Homo sapiens: one gene and its partner. The protein of the gene in region 2 purifies or fractionates together with the protein of the main gene of each other region. This does not show direct contact. Each region holds a gene or a part of one and is shown on either strand. Other genes may lie near its edges.

The links. Proteins that work in one complex are often made in the same cells at the same time.
Region 1: the proteins of ZNF611 (region 2) and IPO7 purify together in Homo sapiens (co-immunoprecipitation; one large-scale study listed by IntAct). This does not show direct contact.

What each region holds. Positions count from the first base shown.
Region 1 is NC_000011.10:9,443,239-9,446,139, reverse strand, and holds part of IPO7 (importin-7), read right to left. Parts: intron 1,044-2,901; coding exon 946-1,043; 3' UTR 1-945. UniProt on the Homo sapiens protein: Functions in nuclear protein import, either by acting as autonomous nuclear transport receptor or as an adapter-like protein in association with the importin-beta subunit KPNB1.
Region 2 is NC_000019.10:52,710,678-52,715,004, forward strand, and holds part of ZNF611 (zinc finger protein 611), read right to left. Parts: intron 3,465-4,327; coding exon 3,338-3,464; intron 1-3,337. UniProt on the Homo sapiens protein: May be involved in transcriptional regulation.

The DNA of each region.
Region 1 (2,901 bases), on a different chromosome or scaffold from region 2:
CCAATTTACATGCTCTAGATACCACCTTTTTTATTTTTTACAGTAAGGTCTGGTATTCAAATACCCACTTGTACACTGACAGCTTTAAGAAAAACAGGACACAGAGGGAGTTGTCATTTTTAGCAGCAATGAAATACCACTAACCCCTTTTTACATACCGAATTCAAGTCACTATCAGAGGTGAGTGCACCACAAAGTCACCAGGTACAAAATTGCTAGTTCATTTTTAAATTAATAACTTGAAATTACCCCTGCCCCCCACCCCATTACATCTTTTTATAAACAGCAAACATTTTGCTATTTTATACATAGGCTAGCAGGCTTGTTTCAATATGAAAGTGCTAATTCATTTACAGATTTTTATAATCAGTTATGTAGTGCTACAATAAATGTCCAATAATCTACATAGGAACAATGATGAAAATGATGAAGACTGAATAAGGCTATCAGATGACCTTATCTTATTTACATATAAAGAATAGATACCCAATGGTGAGGAAGAGACAGAAATTGGACAAATACTCATAGGTGTAAAAATTACATCTACCTTTGAGTTTTATACTGTAAATGAGACATTTTAAATAGTCCTGTAGCCCATGCCTATTTTTTCCTCAGAAAAAGAAAAGCTGCCTTCATGACATCCCCTCGTTTCAGATTTCCACAGTGTCACTTTGAAGCTTCAGAGTCAGGATCTTACTTTCTTCAAAAAATAAAGAAAATACTCCCTCTAAGGTACCTCCCATCCCCCCCCACCCCCAAAATCCCGCTGATTTCTTTTCCAGTGCCAGGTTGCATGATCAGGTCCCATCTCCTGGGGTTGTTGTTTCTTTTGTCCATCTATTGATTATTAGTTTAGAATAGATAACATGAACCAGTTCTGGAACCACTACTAGGAGGAACACAAGCTCTTCACTACAAGCACACAGCAGGAAAGAAAGAGATAACTCAATTCATCCCTGGTGCTGGGCCTCCAAAATTGAAAGAACTTGGCACAACTGGAGCACTGAATTTGTATCCTCCATGCTTCTCAATCATTTTGGATTCTAGAAAACAAATAAAATTTTAGTAGGGCATTCAATCATCTACTAACTTGGTGAGAAACTGACAAAACATTAAACAAGCCAGTAGCTTAACCATCATTAGTGGCCAGGAAGTTCCAAAATCCATGATTTCTCCAATGTATAAGGGCAAGGGAGCATGCATTATGTAGAGAATATAATCTCTTTTACTGTATGCTGTAGACTTCTTAGCCAATTTTCACTTCCCACTGTTAAGAAAAAAATCTTTTTTTTTTTTTTTTTTTGAGACAGAGTCTGGCTCTGTCACCCAGGCTGGAGTGCAGCGGCACGATCTTGGCTCACTGCAATCTCTGCCTCCCAGGTGCAAGCGATTCTCTCCTGCCTTAGCCTCCCAAGTAGCTGGGACTACAAGTGCGTGCCACCACGCCCGGGTAATTTTTTGTATTTTTAGTAGAGGCAGGGTTTCACCATGTTGGCCAGGTTGGTCTAGAACTCCCGACCTCAAGTGATCCATCCGCCTCAGGAGTCAGGAGTTTTTGAGACCAGCCTGGCCAACATAGTGAAACCTCGTCTCTACTAAAAATACAAAAATTAGTTGGGTGTGGTGGTGCGTGCCTGCAATCTCAGCTACTCGGAAGCTGAGGCACGAGAATCACTTGAAATCGGGAGATGGAGGTGGCAGTGAGCCGAGATTGCACCACTGCACTCCAGCCTGGGTGACAGTGTCACTCAAACAAATAAATAAAATAATTTTTTTAATTTATAAAAAAAAGTCTATAGATAATTGTTTGCATTAACAATGGTGTATAACCTAAAATGTACTTTTGTTTATTTTTTTTTTTAGAGACAGAGTTTCACTCTGTCACCCAGGCTGGAGTGCAGTGGCGCAATGTTGGCTCACTGCAACCTCTGCCTCCCAGGTTCGAGCGATTCTCCTGCCTCTGCTTCCCAAGTAGCTGGGACTACAGGTGTGCACCACCATGTCCAGCTAATTTTTGTGTTTTTTAGTAAAGACAGGGTTTCACTGTATGTTGGCCAGGCTGCTCTCAAACTCCTGACCTCAAGTAATCCGCCAGCCTCAGCCTCCCAAAGTGCTGGGATTATAGGCGTGAGCCACCGCGCCTGGCTTAAAATGTACTTTTAAAAATTGCACACTGAAACATTTAAAGATGAAAAGATATGTCTGGGAGCTATTTAACTTCGTAAGTTTTTACATTTTTGGAGACGGGGTCTCACTCTGGCACCCAGGCTAGAGTACAGTGGCACAATAATGGCTCACTATAACCTACACCTCCCACATTCAAGTGATCCTCCAGCCTCAGCCTCCCAAGTAGCTGGGACTACAGGCATGCACCACCATGCCTGGCTAATTTTATTTTTTGTAGAGATGATGTCTCACTATGTTGCCCAGGCTGGACTTCAACTTCCAAACTCAAGCAACCCTCCTGTCTTGGCCTCCCAAAGTGCTGGGATTACAGGCATGAGCCACCACGCCTGGCCAAGTGTTTAAATTTTTTTTTTTTTTTTTTGAGACGGAGTTTCGCTCTTGTTGCCCAGGCTGGAGTGCAATGGCGCGACCTCGGCTCACCGCAACCTCCACCTCCCGGGTTCAAGCAATTCTCCTGCCTCAGCCTCCCGAGTAGCTGGGATTACAGGCATGCCTACCACGCCTGGCTAATTTTGTATTTGCAGTAGAGATGGGGTTTCTCCACGTTGGTCAGGCTGGTCTCGAACTCTAAACCTCAGGTGATCCACCCGCCTCAGCCTCCCAAAGTGCTGGGATTACAGGTGTGAGCCACTGCGCCCGGCTTAGGTGTTTACATTTTTAACAGAACTTTCTACTATCTAACCATCACCATGAGCTAAAGTTATTGCAAACTGA
Region 2 (4,327 bases):
TCTAACAGGACAGTGAAAAGAGTGAGACAGGAAAGGGGGCATCTCATCATCAACATTACTGAGGGCTGACAAATATTATTAAACAAAGGAAGTTGAGTGTGTACTATAAAACTTATATGAAGCCATCTAATAGTACTCATTTGTTTTAAAAAGCAGGTGGATGAATCACTAGTAGAAACTCCATCTCTGCTAAAAATACAGAAATTAGCCAGGCTCGCACCAGGCATAATCCCAGCTACTTGGGGGATTATGTCCTGAGGCAGGACAATCACTTGAACCCAAGAAGTGGAGGTTGCAGTGAGCCGAGACTGCACCACTGCAGTCCAGCCTGGGCAACAAGAGGGAAACTCCATTTAAAAAAAAAAAAAAAAAGGCCAGGCACAGTGGCTCATGCCTGTAATCCCAGTACTTTCGGAGGCTGAGGCAGGTAGATCACTTGAGGTCAGGAGTTCGAGACCAGCCTGGCCAACATGGTGAAACCCCCATCTCTACTAAAAATACAAAACTTGCCAGGCGTGGTGGCACTTGCCTGTAATCCCAGCTTCTCGGGAGGCTGAGGCAGGAGAACCATTTGAATCCGGGAGGTGGAGGTTGCGGTGAACTCAGATTGTGCCATTGCACTTCAGCCTGGGAAACAGGAGCAAAACTCTTTCTCAAACAAAACAAAACTAAACAAAAAACAAAAAAAAAAACCAACCCTGGAGGCAAATTAACATTATTTCTCAAATAATGACAGCAGGCCCACAGTGTTCATGTACATGACCCCAGTTTGCACGTACGGTAAGTGAGGGACAAGACTTGATCCTGGGCATGAAGGATCCCACGACATGTTCTTAGGCACAATAGTCAGCGCAGGCAGGACAGGAAATGACCAGACACAGAAAATATGAGGAGAACAGAAAGAAGTACATCAAGGGGGATACAAGGACTGAGCTGGGACACAAGCGCTGAGCTGCGCTGCTGACAGTGGTTCTGAAGCCATCCCTCATGGATCATGTGCTGAGTCATGATGTCCTGCACACACTGATTTAAGCGGCCTCCTATAATTTTGTCCAGTGGATGAACAAGGTCTTCACTTACTCAGGGAGAGTAGTGTTGGAGGGGAGGGGCTCACGGGGAAATTGGGGTGTTCACTTTTACAAAGTCAATAGGCTGGTATTTGCATCCAGATCAATGTATCATGTGAGTCAAGGCCAGGAAAGGAAGGGCAAGGGTGGACGGCAGGAAGTAATGGGCATGTAGGAGTGAACTTTGTGCATGCACCTCTGTGGGAATATAATTCCACCAAGATAGACCAAATCTTGAGCTTAGAGGAAAGTGGAACTAATTTAGCAAATGGTAACATATTGACCCAAGGTTAAATATGCAAATTACAATATGGGCAAGGGACAAGAATGAAAGAGATCCAACAATGCAGCAGTACGGTGGCCTGAGGTGAAAGCAGTTTTACATCTCTTAAATTGAATGCCTCTGACTTCTAGTTTCAGGCATGTACTCAACAAAATCCTCTGTGTAGATTCCAGAAATGCATACAAACACACACACAAAAAAACAACTAAACTCCATGAAGAGTACAGTAGAGCAATGTAGGAGACCATGGGGGTGAACAAGGATCCCCTGGCTGAGTAGGTAGAGATGTGTTTGTGAAAACAGAGCCAGGCTGAGTGCAGTGGCTTACTTCTGTAATCCCAGCTCATTAGGAAGACGGGTGGGTGGATCATGTTGTCAGGAGTTCAAGACTAGCCTGGCCAGCATGCATGGTGAAACACTGTCTCTACTAAAAAAAAAAAAAAAAAAAAAAAAAAAAAAACATTGGCCGGGCATGGTGATGCACATCTATGACCCCAGCTACTTAGGAGGCTGAGGTAGCAGATTGCTTGAACCCAGGAGGCAGAGGTTGCAGTAAGCTGAGATTGCACCACTGCACTCCAGCATGGGTGACAGAGCAATACTCCGTCTGAAAAAAAAAAAAAGAAAGAAACTGTACCTTTAATAGACATATGGTTTTGCCACATTGTCTAGGCTGGTCTCGAATTCCTGACCTCAGGTGATTCACCCACGCACTTCCAAAGTGCTGGGATTACTGGCATGTGCGACTTCACCCAGCTGACATTATTTATTATAGTAAAGAGAAGAAACCAACCCAGATGTCCATTGACAGATAAATATACGAACAAAATGTGGTACACACATACAGTGGAATATTATTCAGCCTTAAAAACAAACTCGGAAGGGGCCAGGGGCTGTGGCTCATGCCTGTAATCCCAGCACTTTGGGAATCCAAGGCAACTGAATCACGTCAGGCCAGGCTATCAAAATCAGCCTGGCCAACATGGCAAAACTGCCATCTGTAATAGAACTACCAAAAATTAGTCGGGTGTGGTGACACATGCCTGTAATCCCAGCCACTCAAGAGGCTGAGGCAGGAGAGTCGCTTGAACCCAAAAGGAGGAGGTTGCAGTGAGCCAAGATCATGCCACTGCACTCAAGCCTGGGCAACAGAGTGAGACTCTGACTCAAAACAAACAAACAAAAAAACAACAACATAGAAATGAACAAGTTGAAAGCCACTGTGTCTTAAGGAAATGACAGTAGAACTAAACAATGGAAACCTCATTCAACCTCAAAAGCTTCCTCAATAAGATTGATGAAAACCATATCTCTTACAGGGTTGATCCTACAACAAACTGAACATAGGTTTTCTTGTTAAAAATGAACAGTGACACATATTGGTGTGAAAAATGTGACATGAACAAGAGTTCAGTCAAGAGCCTCATACATATGAGGCTGTGAGCCCGAATGATGTCCTCGCTGGGAGGAATTGCAACACCACTGACTGCTGCTTAGAGAAGATGATCATTAGTTTATGGGATGAACATTGTCACAGTGCCAGTGAGAGACGCTTCTGTGATGCTCCTCAAAAACCAGAATGAGCTGGGCATGGTGGCTCACGCCTGTAATCCCAGCACTTTGGGAGGCCGAGGTGGGTGGATCACCTGAGGTCGGGAGTTAGAGACGAGCCTGACCAACATGGAGAAACCCCATCTCTACTAAAAATACAAAATTAGCTGGGTGTGGTCTCGCATGCCTATAATAACAGCTACTCAGGAGGCTGAGGCAGGAGAATCACTTGATCCTGAGGGGCGGAGGTTATGGTGAGCCAAGATCATACCATTGCACTCCAGCCTCGGCAATAGGAGCGAAACACCATCTCAAAAACAAAAAACAAAAAACAAAACCCATGTATGGGGCAAAATCACAAAAGAGGATACAAAGCCAGGATGAGCCAAGATAGACAAGAGCAGACTCCTCATGTCTGCAGGGACATTTTCCTCACCCACAGCCTCCAGGTTCCTGTAGTTCTCCAACATCACTTCCCTGTACAAAGCCCTCTGTGAAGGGTTCAGGCATTTCCACTCTGCCAATGAGAATTCTATAGCCACATCCCGGAAAGTCAAGCGTCCCTAAAATGAAACACACATTTCAACAAAACATTATGGAGTAATGAGTTATCACCTTCACAGAAAATGAGAAATGAGAAAATAAGTATTTATTTGATCAAAGATTATGTTCTGACAAAAGGATGTTAAGGTATTTTTGAATATTTTTTCCCTATAGTTGCGTTTTATTGTAGTTTTCCTTGAAAGATTTTAAGATCCCATAAGTCACTACGGAAATCTCGATTTTATGGACAATATAAAAACTATAAAAATAAAAAGGAAAAACAGGGCCAGGCATGGCAGTTCACGCTTGTAATCCCAACACTTCAGGAGGCCAAGGCGGGCAGATTATTTGCGGTCAAGAGTTCGAGACCAGCCTGGCCAATGTGGTGAAAAACTGTCTCTCCTAAAAATATAAAAATTAGCCGGGCATGGTAGAAGGCACCTGTAATCCCAGCTACACAGGAGGCTGAGGCAGGAGAATCACTTGAACCCGGGAGATGGAGGCTGCAGTGAGCCAAGTTCGCACCACTGCCCTCCATCCTGGGCAACAGACTGACACTCCATCTCAAAAAACAAAACAAAACAAAACAAAAAAACAATGCCGGGCAGTGACTGTCACCTGTAATCCCAGCACTTTGGGAGACCAAGACGGGCAGATAATGTGGTCAAGAGATTGAGACCATCCTGGTCAACATGGCAAAACCATGTCTCTACTAAAAATACAAATATTAGCTGGGTGTTGTGGTGCAGGCCTGTACTCCCAGATACTCAAGAGGCTGAGGCAGGAGGATCGCTTGAATCCGGGAGGCGGAGGTTGCAGTGAGCCAAGATCGCACCACTGCACTTTAGCCTGGCAACAGAGCAAGACTCCATCTCACACACAC